Linked DNA regions of Homo sapiens: region 2 is linked to region 1. Evidence: fine-mapped expression QTL. Tissue or cell type: lung. Region 1 holds a variant in brackets; the other region holds the start of a gene. All regions are shown on one strand. Distances are between the middles of the regions.

What was found. PIP is the estimated chance that this variant, and not a neighbour inherited with it, causes the effect.
Region 2: it holds the start of EXOC3-AS1, and the variant in region 1 is fine-mapped to the expression of EXOC3-AS1 in lung (TOPMed, PIP 0.97). The same link has a PIP of 0.9 or more in caudate.

Annotation. Positions count from the first base shown.
Region 1 is chr5:477,415-482,834 of GRCh38, reverse strand. SLC9A3 (solute carrier family 9 member A3) reads left to right here. Exons shown (of 17, transcript NM_004174.4): 7 at 85-287; 8 at 678-767; 9 at 1,200-1,270; 10 at 2,870-2,999; 11 at 5,391-5,420. SLC9A3-AS1 (SLC9A3 antisense RNA 1) reads right to left here. Exons shown (of 7, transcript NR_125375.1): 5 at 4,986-5,029; 6 at 2,619-3,053; 7 at 1,943-2,473. Among named protein-coding and RNA genes, the nearest start is that of SLC9A3-AS1, 6.9 kb to the right of the region's middle. RefSeq lists an enhancer at 4,502-4,671. The variant G/C (reference allele first, on the strand shown) is at 3,204.
Region 2 is chr5:439,860-446,223 of GRCh38, reverse strand. EXOC3-AS1 (EXOC3 antisense RNA 1) reads left to right here and starts at 3,064. Exons shown (of 1, transcript NR_126522.1): 1 at 3,064-4,389. It overlaps EXOC3 (exocyst complex component 3), which reads right to left and starts at 3,048. Exons shown (of 13, transcript NM_007277.5): 1 at 2,934-3,048; 2 at 1-74. The coding sequence starts at 18. RefSeq lists enhancers at 2,384-2,473, 2,524-2,653, 3,424-3,533, 3,554-3,603, 5,187-5,246 and 2 more and a silencer at 2,954-3,343.

The sequences.
Region 1 (5,420 bases):
CGCCAAGACGCTGTCCCGGAGGGGCTGGGGTCCCGCGGCTGGGAGGGCGGCCGGGGAGCTGAGTGCCCGCCCCATCATCCGCAGGTGTGGTCCTGCAGACCTGGCTTCTGAACCGCTACCGCATGGTGCAGCTGGAGCCCATTGACCAGGTGGTCCTGTCCTACGGGGGCCTGCGCGGGGCCGTGGCCTTTGCCCTGGTGGTGCTTCTGGATGGAGACAAGGTCAAGGAGAAGAACCTGTTCGTCAGCACCACCATCATCGTAGTGTTCTTCACCGTCATCTTCCAGGTGAGGCCCAGCCCAGCCAGCCCTGGGGTCTCGGCCCCGCCCGCGAGGGGAGCCTGGGCCCGCACTTCAGGACAAGCATTTCCAGGCTCCAGACCCTAATTGGGTTTCATAATTTTAGTAACTAGGAGCCGTTTTGTAGGTTTTCACGTGGCCCCACTGGGGAGGAAGCATAATTGTCCTAAAAATGTTCTTCCCGGGCCTTCGCTGGTGGATGAGGCCCCGGGTGCTGCTTCCTCCTCTGCAAAGCAGGGGCGCGGGTTGCTGGGTGCCCGGAGAGCAGGGAGGGCGCCTGTGGGCCCCGGGGCAGGTGGCTCTGTGTGGTGCACCTGGCCGGGCCAGCGGGATGTGGGGGGCTGCCTGGCACCAGGGTCACGAGACCCTGTCCTCCAGGGCCTGACCATCAAGCCTCTGGTGCAGTGGCTGAAGGTGAAGAGGAGCGAGCACCGGGAACCTCGGCTCAACGAGAAGCTGCACGGGCGCGTAAGTGCGGGGCTGGGGGGCGGGGGGGGGGCACTGCGTGTTCCTCGGGGCTGGGCTGAGAGGGGAGAGGAGGCTGCGTTGGTCTGGGGCTTGGGGGGTGGCGGAGGGCACCGTGTGTTCCTTGGGGCTGGGCCAGGAGGGGAGAGGAGGCCGCCATACGTGCGGGGCTGGGGGGCGGGGGGGGGCACTGCGTGTTCCTCGGGGCTGGGCTGAGAGGGGAGAGGAGGCTGCGTTGGTCTGGGGCTTGGGGGGTGGCGGAGGGCACCGTGTGTTCCTTGGGGCTGGGCCAGGAGGGGAGAGGAGGCTGCGTCCAGGCCAGGGGCGTGGTGAGGGGGGCTGGTGGGTTCCTCGGGGCTGGGCCAGGAGTGGAGGGGCACCTCATGTTCCCCGGTTGGCCGCCCCGAGACGCTCATGTCTTTCTTCCCTTGAAAGGCTTTCGACCACATCCTCTCGGCCATCGAGGACATATCCGGACAGATCGGGCACAATTATCTCAGAGACAAGTAAGTGGCTGGGACGGCCCCGGCGGTGTCGCACAGCCCGGCTTCTGGAAACATCCTCCACTCGGAAGAACCAGAAGCCACATGCATAACAACTGTTTGAGTCCAGGCTTGGTCAGGGCTCCGGTGCCCCATGAGGCCAGGTGCCAGGTGTGCCCCGAGACACGCAGGTGCTGCGGAAAGGAGTTGGCGGCAGCAGTTGGGGCCACCGAGTGAGGGGACAGGAGCTGAATTCTCTGTGCTCCTTCCAGGGAATAGAGATGCCCTCTCATGTGGCCCAATTAATTCCAAATTGTTATGTAGGAATTGAAAATAAGGCAAATAGATTATTTCCTCCACGTCATAAACAGGGTTAGTATCAGTCAACATTTAAAATGATTTTGTCTGGCAGGGCTCAAGCCTGTAATCCCAGCACTTTGGGAGACTGAGGTGGTCAGCTCACTTGAGGTCAGGAGTTTGAGACCAGCCTAGCCAACATGGTGAAACCCCGTCTCTACTAAAAATACAAACATTAGCCAGGGGTGGTGGCGTGGGCCTGTAATCCCAGCTACTCAGGAGGCTAAGGCACAAGAATCGCTTGAACCCGGGAGGTGGAGGCTGCGGTGAGCCGAGATTGCGCCATTACATTCCAGCCTGGTGACAGAGCGAGACTTCGTCCCAAAATAAAAAAAAGAGTTTGTCCATTAAGGTGAAATCACCTATGTTTTATTATAAAAAACATGTGACACTTATAATAAACCCAGTAAGGAGCACATACAATTTGCCCTGGGTTCCCATTTTCTGAGCGATCTGTGTTTGCTTGGGGTGGAGGCACCGGGAGGTGTGGCCACGTGGCTTCATAAAGCTCAGCTGCGGTTCTCCGTGGCCACAGTGACTCTGCTCCGGGTACCCAGTCCCCGACTCCTTGGCCTCCCAGGGGCCATCCCGGGGGTCTCGGAAGGCACAGCCTCGGTTAGCTTTGACTTCTTGGTGTGGCTGAAACTCAGCCTGTACAGGAGAGCTGCCATTGCTGCCGCGGGGCCTGCCCAGGTGTGAGCACACAAGCTCACCCGGGCCCACCCTGTGCCCTGGAGGGCGGCTCTGGCGGCTGCACCCATGTCCAAGTGACAGGCATCACCTCCTTGTGCCCCAGAGTTTCCTCTAAGTCCGGCCAGGCCACCGTCCCTTCTGATCTGGATAACCAGCGAATACTCTAATTCCGTTAGGCTAAAAAAAACCTCACTCTGGTCAGCTTGGCTCCCACAAGTCTAAGGGCTCAGGGTGTCTGTCCGCCCCTGCCCTTCCTCCTGTGCACCTGAAGGTGCCCCCCATGTGGCCAAAGCCCCCTTGCCTGACCAGGCCTGACACCCACCGTGTCCTGAGCCACCCTCTGGAGGAGGCGGCATGCAGTTTCATATGCGTCTAACGGCCTCCATCCAACAGGACAGGCGGGAGAACGGCGGACGGCCTGGGCGTGTGGCAGGGGCTGCTTCCCTCATTTTAAACGCGCCTACAGGGTCACTATAGCAAACAAAATTCAGGAGAGAAGGGGCCGGGCCACGCGTCCGGCGGGCTCTAGGGCGCCTGTCACCTGAGGCTCACACCCAAGGTCTGTCCCTACAGGTGGTCCCACTTCGACAGGAAGTTCCTCAGCAGGGTCCTCATGAGACGGTCGGCCCAGAAGTCTCGAGACCGGATCCTGAATGTCTTCCACGAGCTGAACCTGAAGGATGCCATCAGCTACGTGGCTGAGGTAGCAGAGCCGCTTGCTCTGCCGGGTCGGGGCTGCAGCAGGCTCTGGCACTGGCTGTGGGTGCCATGGGGCAGTGAGGAGAGGCCCCTGCACCCGCGTCCCAAGGCCAGGCCCACCCCAGCAGTTCACGGGAGGCTGATGGGCCTTCTGATGCCCTGGGAATCCCAGGGGCTCTCGTGGGGTAAACTGAGTCACAGAGTCCTG[G/C]TGACTGTGGTGCTGGTGGGGGTGAGCGCTGAGGTCAGGTCCTAGGACCCCGAGCTCCCTTGCTTTCCCCAGGGATGGGAGCAGACGGTAAGCAGGCAGGCTGTTACGGGACCTGGTCCCAATACAGCCCTGCCTGCCCCAGCACACGCAGGTGCCCACAGGTGCACACGCACAGGCAGAGGGGCAGCAGCAGGGCCGTCTCCCGCTGTGGGCCGGCCATGGCTCTGAGGCTGCTCCAGCATCTCCCAGTCCACTATGAGCAGGCCTCTCAGCGTCTGCAGAGCCCCTGACTGCTCCAGAGACCAGAGGCCAGGCGCCCCACCCAGCCCCGAGGCCACTGCCGCCCTGGCTCCCGCACCTGCCCACTATGGCAGGTGGGCCTCAGCCTCCCCGGCCTGCCCTGACCTCCCCAGGGGCGCCCTGGCTGCAGGAAGTGTGCAAGGCAGGGCCTGGGGGCACAGCTGCAGGGATTCCGCAGCTCCTCCCTAAGGACAGAGCCCTCCCTAGCGAGCTTTGGTGCCCTCATCCAGCAGCCGGTCAGGGTGGGTGCTCTCGCCGGAGAGAAAGACCTGTCCTGCCAAACCCTGCAGACCCTCACACAGAGGGCCAGTGGGGGCCTGGAAACTCCATTCATTCAGACAGAATGATTCTGCCTCCACTGACGTGCATTCACCCCAGATGTGCCACCCGTGACTGGGGCCATGCCAAGTGGCAAGGCACCTCCTGGCAGAGGGCACGGGGGCCTGGGGCTGTCAGGAGGGCCAGCCAGTGCAGATCAGGAAGGAGGGCTCCTGGACCAGGCTCCACACAAACCCCCAAACCACAGGCCCGGCAAGCGAGAGAAAGCTCAGATACTCTGGCCCTAGGAGGCCTGGAGCCTGGCTGGAGGGTGGGAAGGGACAGTGGGGGCTCTGGCCTCTGGCGGGCTCCCCTCACCCCCACATAGGTGACAAGGTTGGCAGGCGGGCCTTGAGCCTCTCCCCCAACCACACCAGCCACCATCCTTGACCCACGACCCACGACCACAACCCTGGGCTCAGCTGCATGTGGGGAGCCTGTGGGCTCCTCCCGGCCACTCAGTAGCGGGGGTCCCCACACCTGGGGTGGCATCTGCCTGCCCAGTGTCCCTCCTGGCTCTCACCCAGGGCGGCTGCTTTCTCTCCCTGCGCCCCCCCACCCCACGGCAGGGCTCGGCAGGGGCAGGGGAAGTGGTGTGGGGAGCAGCCCCTCCGAAGACCCCACGTGCCCGGGTGCTGCACAGCCCTCGCCTGTGCCCGCCCAGAGTGGCAGTTAGCACCGTGGCTCCCCTGACCCTCACGTCTGTCTTCGTGGGGTGGCAGGAGCGGGACAAAGGTCATACAGAAGATGCTGGATTTAGAAGCAAAAGAGCAGGCGGAGGGCCCTCAGAACCAATGACCCTCAAATCCCCCCCGAGTGGGCAGTGAACTGGGGGCCGCATCTTCAGTGGGAACAGCGGCACCCACCTGACCCCGGGGGCTTCCCTGGGAGCATCCTGCACACTGAAGGCGGCACGGGTGCCCACCTGGCGAGGTCTGAGTGCAGTGAGCTGACGTTCCCTCCACACCCGTGCCCCTGCCGGCCCTGGGGACCCTGACTCCAGCCATAAGCCCACTCTGCCCTGTGCTCCTGCACAACCTCATGCTCTCCAGGCCCTGCCATCAGGCGGGTGGGGTCTGAGGACACATAGGCGGCCCCACTTCCATCCTCTGGCACTCAGCTGTGTGGCTTCTGTGCCCCATCGGGCTCTGCTCCGTTCTCTACCTGATTCAGTTCTGGACATGAGGCCAATGGAGTTTTAGGGTCTCCTGCAGGGACAGAGACCACTTCAATGATTCTGCAGTATCAACACTTTCCCCAGACACATCCCAAGTCCCAGGCAGCTTTACCCCTTCACACTCAGACCACTGTGTCCTCCCACAAGCATGACCTCTGCCCAGTTCAGGCAGCAGCCTGGCTGTGGCCTCAGACGGACAGGGGCTCAAAATCTGATCTCCTGGTTTTGGCATTTCCACCCCTCCCTCTGCAGCTGTGAGGCGTGAACCCGGGGCTCAGGTCTCAAGGCTTTCCCCGGGCCCCGAGCTCTGGGCGCTTCCCCCCAGGGCACACAATGGCAGCAGCTAGGGCTTGGCTGCTCAGGCCACTGACCGGGCTGCTTCCTGACCACAGGGAGAGCGCCGCGGGTCCCTGGCCTTCATC
Region 2 (6,364 bases), 37 kb after region 1:
CCGGTCTGTCTCCTTCATGGTGAAAAAGCTGGTGGAATCCTCACACTGTTCATGCTAGGGGTGTTCTCTGTGCACTGCAGGAGTTGTTAGGACGGTAGAAATGTTAGGTACAAAACCTCCCCCAAACTATCAGGTGATCACAGTGGAGCTACAAGCAGAGCCTCTGAGATCATTAATCCAGGAAACCTCAAAGAAAGCTGAACTAGGATGAGGAACTCCTTGATAAGATAAACAAACCTTCGTAACACAAACATGCAGAAGTTATACCTTTAAGGGGAGAGCAGGGGCGTTTCACAGGCATGAGAGACATGGACATTGCGAAGATTCTAGATGTGGGTCCCAGACCACCCAGCATGTAGATGTCAGCCTCAAAGGCACATCTCTCCCCAAGACAGGGCTGGTTTCTCATTTCGGGAGCTTTCCCCCAGCACCTTGGCCAGGCCTGTGGGCAGCTGCACCAGGACCCTCAGTGAAGACAAATACAGCGTGGACAACTCCCCCGACCAGGTACCACAGCTGGAGGCCCAGCACAAGCCCCACAATTCCCACCCTATAAAAGTGACAATAGTCAGCCAGGCCCGGTGGCTCACGCCTGTAATCCCAGCACTTTGGCAGGCCGAGGCGGGTGGATCACGAGGTCAGGAGATCGAGACCATCCTGGCTAACATGGTGAAACCCTGTATCTACTAAAAATACACACAAAAAAATTAGCTGGGCATGTTGGTGGGTGCCTGTAGTCCCAGCTACTCGGGAGGCTGAGGCAGGAGACTGGCGTGAACCCCGGAGGCGGAGCTTGCAGTCAGCCGAGATCGCGCCACTGCACTCCAGCCTGGGCGACAGAGCGAGACTCCGTCTCAAAAAAAAAAAAAAGAAAAAAAAAGAAAAAGTCATTATTGTCTTGGGTATCCAAAACCCCATTTCCCCCTTTTTTAACTGTCCTAGAAAACATCATGCTTCCCTCCTTTATGCAGGCCCCGTGCAGACCACAGGTGCTCAGATGCCAGGCAAGCCTGCCTTCCATGCTCCCTCCACCATCGTCCTCCTCGGGGAGCTAACACAGCTGCTTGGTGAGCATCAGTCAATGAGGGAATCCGATACACCTGTTCCCCTTGACTTCAGCTGTCTGATTTTCATCTTCATGAATATTAAAAAGATTCACCTTCTCCTGGAATTTTTCATTCTCCATGCCCACATGCTTTCAGACACCTCTCTTCTCCTTTTTCATCTGGACCTACATTGCAACCTTTCCTTTCTCTTTATTTTCTGATTATGAAATTTGGCATACCAACGTAGAAAATCTGGACAGGACAAAAATACAAAGATGCCAGAGGCAACTCCCCTTAAATCCCATCATCTATGGGCAACTCCTCTTAAATCTTGCTACCCAGGGGCAACTTCCCTTAAATCTCACAATCCAGGGACAACTTCCCGTAAATCCCACCACTCAGGGGTAACCCCCGCTATATCCCACCACTCAGGGGCAACTCCCCTTAAATCCCGCCACCCAGGGACAACTCCCCTTAAATCCCGACACTCAGGGGCAACTCCCTCCAACAGGGCTTGTTTCCTTCCAGTTTTTTCCCTTTGAGTTTCTTTTAAAGCTAAGATTCCACTGCTTATATGACTTTGTAGGTGCACACTTTTGTTTTCTTATTTTGTTTGGACATTATCATCAGCATTTCCATTGACATTAAAGCCTGTATGATTTTGATTATAGGGCTGGATAATAACCCAAGAAGTGGACCCCCAGCCGCTCTGCTGGGGCACGCGGTGAGGTGGCTGCGCCCATCTTAAGGCTGGAGTGAAGTCTGTCACGCTGTGGGTGGAAGCCAAGGCAATGTGAGTGGAGAGCTGTGAAGCAGGGCTCGCCTTGGAGTCAGAATAAAGCTACTCATGTGGAAAAGGGGAAAATCTGGAGTTAAAAAACGCACCGCAGAGGCTTCCATCCCAGCCTGAAGACTAAAGATTTTGGGTCACAGAAGCCAAAGAGGAACTCAGAGACCATAAACAGAGACCCAGGTCCAGCCCCTACCAGGGCCTTTCTGACTGCCTTCCCCTGGCGCTGGCTCCGCTGTGAGCCTCTCCGCCGAGCGGGGGGACACCCTACTGCGGGGAACATCAGCACCCACGGAGACACCTGCGCCAGGGAGACACCTCTGCCGGGCAGACACCTCTGCCAGGAGGGACCCTTTACCGGGGGGACGCCTGCGCCGAGGGGAACACCTGTGCTGGGAGGCACCTCACGGAGGGGACACTCCGCTGGAGGACACCTGCACCTTGGAGGACACCTGCACCTTGAAAGCTTCCTAAAGGCCAGGAAGGACGCTTGTGCCCAGAAGGACACCTGCTCCGACGAGGGACACCTGGTCCGAGGGGGGACACCTGTGCCAGGAAGGACAACTGCGCCTGGGGGGGGACACCGTCAAGAGGACACCTGCACCAGGAAGTACACTTGTGCCTGGGAGGGACACCTGTGCTTGAGGGGACACTTGCACCTTGGAGAACTCCTGCGCCGAGGGGACACCTGCGCCAGGAAGGACACTTGTGCCTGGAGGGACATCTGCCCCAAGGAGGGACACCTGCTCCGAGGGGGGACACCTGTGCCAGGAAGGACACCAGCGCCTGGGGCGTGGGGGAAGACACTGTTAAGGGGACACCTGCACCAGGAAGGACCTTGTGCCTGTGGGGACACATGTGCCAAGGGGACACCTACGCCTGGGGGGGACACATGTGCCGGGGAGGACACCTGCGCCGAGGACACTCGCACGAGCGGGATACTCCACGGGGTCCGGAACGGCCTCCCCGCCCTCCAGGTCCCGGTCCGGCCTCCCCCTACGCGCCCCCGCGGAAGCCAGAGACAGGGAGAGCAAGGATGAAAGACGGCGACCACCTCCCAAGGACCCGCCGGCCGTCAGGACCTGCCACCGACTCACCCTCTACGGCTACGCCGCCGCCGCCGCCGCCGCCGCCGCCGCCGCCGCCGCCGCCGCCGCCCCCGCCGCCCCCTCCGCCTTCGCTGCCTCCGCCTCCGGGGTCCCGGCCGGAAGTGGACAGCGCGCGGGCACTTCCGCTTCCGGCAACGGCGCCGGAAGCACGGGTCCGGGCCCTCCCGCGGGGCGGGTACTCGTCTCCCGGCCGAGCGACTTCAGCTCGGGGACCTGCCCCATGGCCGCTCCCCAGCAGGACAGGGAAACCGCCGAGGTGGGGGGCTTCTTGTCCGTCCCAGCCCCCCCAACTCAGGCCCTCTCGCTGCCCCTGGCGACCACCGCGTGCGCCCTTCCCCAGGGCGGGCGCAGTCCTGGACGCCTCCGCCGAGCGTGACTGCGTGCATTTTCTCTCCTTTCCCTTCCCAACCTGCGGAGAGAAGACAGCCCCAGAGCCGCTGTCTCCATCCTCTGCTGATGCCTGCTGTCTTTATGTTGGCCTCGTCGTCCGCACTGCAGTGTGGCAGGGGCGTCCCTCGTTTCCCGCGGACTGAGGTGGGCGCCGGGCATTCAGTAAACGAAGAAACCAAAGCGGAGAAGGTTGGGAATCAAACGTCTGTCATACCTGCCACCAGCAGACAAGCGGCTTTGGGTACCTCCTGGACCCAAAGACGAACTCAGCCCCTCCAGGAGCGCAGTCATTGGCACCCTCGTGGGAACAATGCCAGTGGGATGGGTGGCCACCGGATGTTTCCGGGGCCCCTCAGAGGCCCAGCAGCGCAGGTCTTGGAGAATGAATGTGGGTCACTGGGCCGCGCTGCAGAGGGCCGGTCCTGAGTCGCTTCCTGGAGGAGAGGCCCATGGCCAGCACTTGGCTTCGCCTGGAGGAAGAAGCACGTGCTAAACCACGAGCGTTCAGGGTTTGTCTGTTTGATAAAAGATGCTGGCTTTGACACACCAACTGACAAAGTCTTTCATAGGTTGGAGCTGCTAGGTTGTGCCCCTGCCCCTCCTGAAAATTAGCCACACGAAAGGAAGGGTCTGGAAGGTGGCAGGGAAGCCAGCAGAGACCAGGGAAGTGGCAGCAGCATGGGGCAGGGGCACACAGGAAGGAGATGGAGCTTGCGGGAGCCCCCACTGCCACTCCGACAGGGAGCCCTGCCCCGTGCCCTGCTGATGTTGACACTGACCCCGGCTCTATTATTTCAGTTTTTCCTTGTAATTTCTGAAAATCTAGCAACAAGTTGAGCAATGAAAAAAAGTAAAAAAGTTAAAATTGTGTTAGAAATTATGACTGTAAAGAAATTTTGAAACTAATGAAGAAAAAATTGCCAAAATTGCCAAAGCTTTTAGGACTCTTAAAAATATAGTAACATTGAGTATTATGAACTAAAGACTCATACTATTATATCAGTGTCTGGTAGTGAATTTGGATGGAGGACTGTCTAGTAACTTCTTAACAAAACATTGATTAGAAGTCTTTCTTGGCGGGGCGCCGTGGCTCACGCCTGTAATCCCAGCACTTTGGGAGGCGAGGCAGGTAGATCATGAGGTCAGGAGATCGAGACCATCCTGGCTAACATGGTGAAACCCCGTCTCTACTAAAAAAAATACAAAAAAACTAGGCAGGTGTGGTGGTGGGCCCCTGGAGTCCCAGCTACTCGGGAGGCTGAGGCAGGAGAATGGCGTGAACCCGGGAGGCGGAGCTTGCAGTGAGCCAAGATCGCGCCACTGTACTCCAGCCTGGGCAACAGAGCGAGGCTCCGTCTCAAAAAAAAAAAAAAAAAAAAAAAAAAAAAAAAGGTATTTATTGGCTGGGCGCAGTGGCTCCTAACTGTAATCCCAGCACTTTGGGAGGCTGAGATGGGCAGACCCCTTGAGCCCAGGAGTTTGAGACCAGCCTGGGCAACATGGTCTTTTTGGTAGGAACCCCATCTCTACCAAAAAAAACCCCACAAAAATTAGCCAGGCATGGTGGTGCATGCCTGTAATCTCAGCTCCCTGGGAGGCTGAGGCAGGAGAATGGCTTCAACCCGGGAGGAGGAGGTTGCAGTGAACTGAGATGGCACCACTACACTCCAGCCTGGGTGACAGAGGGAGAATCTGTCTCAAAAAAAAAAGTTTCTTGACTTCTGTTTTTGGCAGACCATGTTCTGCGAACACCCAGGAGCACTGCTGAGTGCAAGCATCATGTCGATTGCACAAGTGGATTCACGAACAGGCAAGGACGTGACCAGGGACAAATGTGGGAAGGGGAGAGGACGTGAATCAGAAGCAGAGATGCTTGCCGTCCTACAGCAGGCAGGTGGGTGGGTAGGGTGCGAGTTCTGCGGCCCAGGGGTTGGGTTTTACACTGAAGCAGGACAGATGATGAAGCTAAGGCTCCCAGCAGGTGGGAGGTGGACGGCGACTCCCATGTGAAGCACAGATGTGCAAGGGATGCATCCTCAGTGAAAGCGTGGACTAGGAAAACAGCAACAGCCTGGAGACTGTTCCTAAACTCAGCCCTCGGCGGAAGCCAACCCAGGGTCATTGCTAGAGGGATCCTCCTCCACCTTGACAGGAGCAAACTCGAGGGGGAGGGAGGGGAGGGCACTGAAGCACCCACAGTCCTGACCCTGCTCTGGGAGAATAGAGACCGTGCTTAGCTCCTGCTTAGACCTTGTTAAATGCCCACATTAAGGTTAGCCACTACAGAAATAGAAACAGGAAGAGAGAAAATGCAGGCAACAGCACAGAGACTGCAGGCAAGGAGAAGATGAGGACCCTGTGTTGAAATGTATCAGTAATGAGAACACAAGTAAGTGGATTAGAAACAGTGAAACATTCATAGGCGAACATCTAAAGCATCAAGAAACAACGATTAGAACTGGAGGCTTTTCACACGTGGGTCAGCCAGGCCCGAGAAGCTGGTGTGGGGATATGAATATCAAACAACATGGGTTTTTGGTCAAAAGCCACTGTCAAAGATAGTTATTTTCCTAAGATGCAAAATGCATAAGCCATAAAGAATAAAATAGAAAAGTTGCTATATTAAAATCTTAAACTCTTGTGGGATATAATTTTTAAATCCTTAAGTGAAAAGCCAAGCCACAGACTGAGGGAAAACATTGTCAGCATCTGTAACTGACAAGAAAATTGCTATCCAGAATAAAAACAGAACTCCTGCAAATTGATCTAAAAGGGCAAACAAGTGCAGCAAGAAACGGGTAAAGGACAAGAGCCACTGGCTCCGGGGAATAAGCTGCTTCCCTCGGCCTTCAGGGAGACCTTGTCCCCACACCCTCCCCACGGGGCCCTGCTGAAGCCTCTGAGCCATGACTAGGGTGTCCGTTGACCTGACCAGACCATGAGCCATGACCCAGGCCCTGCTCTATTGTCAGCCAGACCTCACTGCGGCCATGCAGCCTCCCCCACTCGCTATTCAGCTCCAGCCGTCC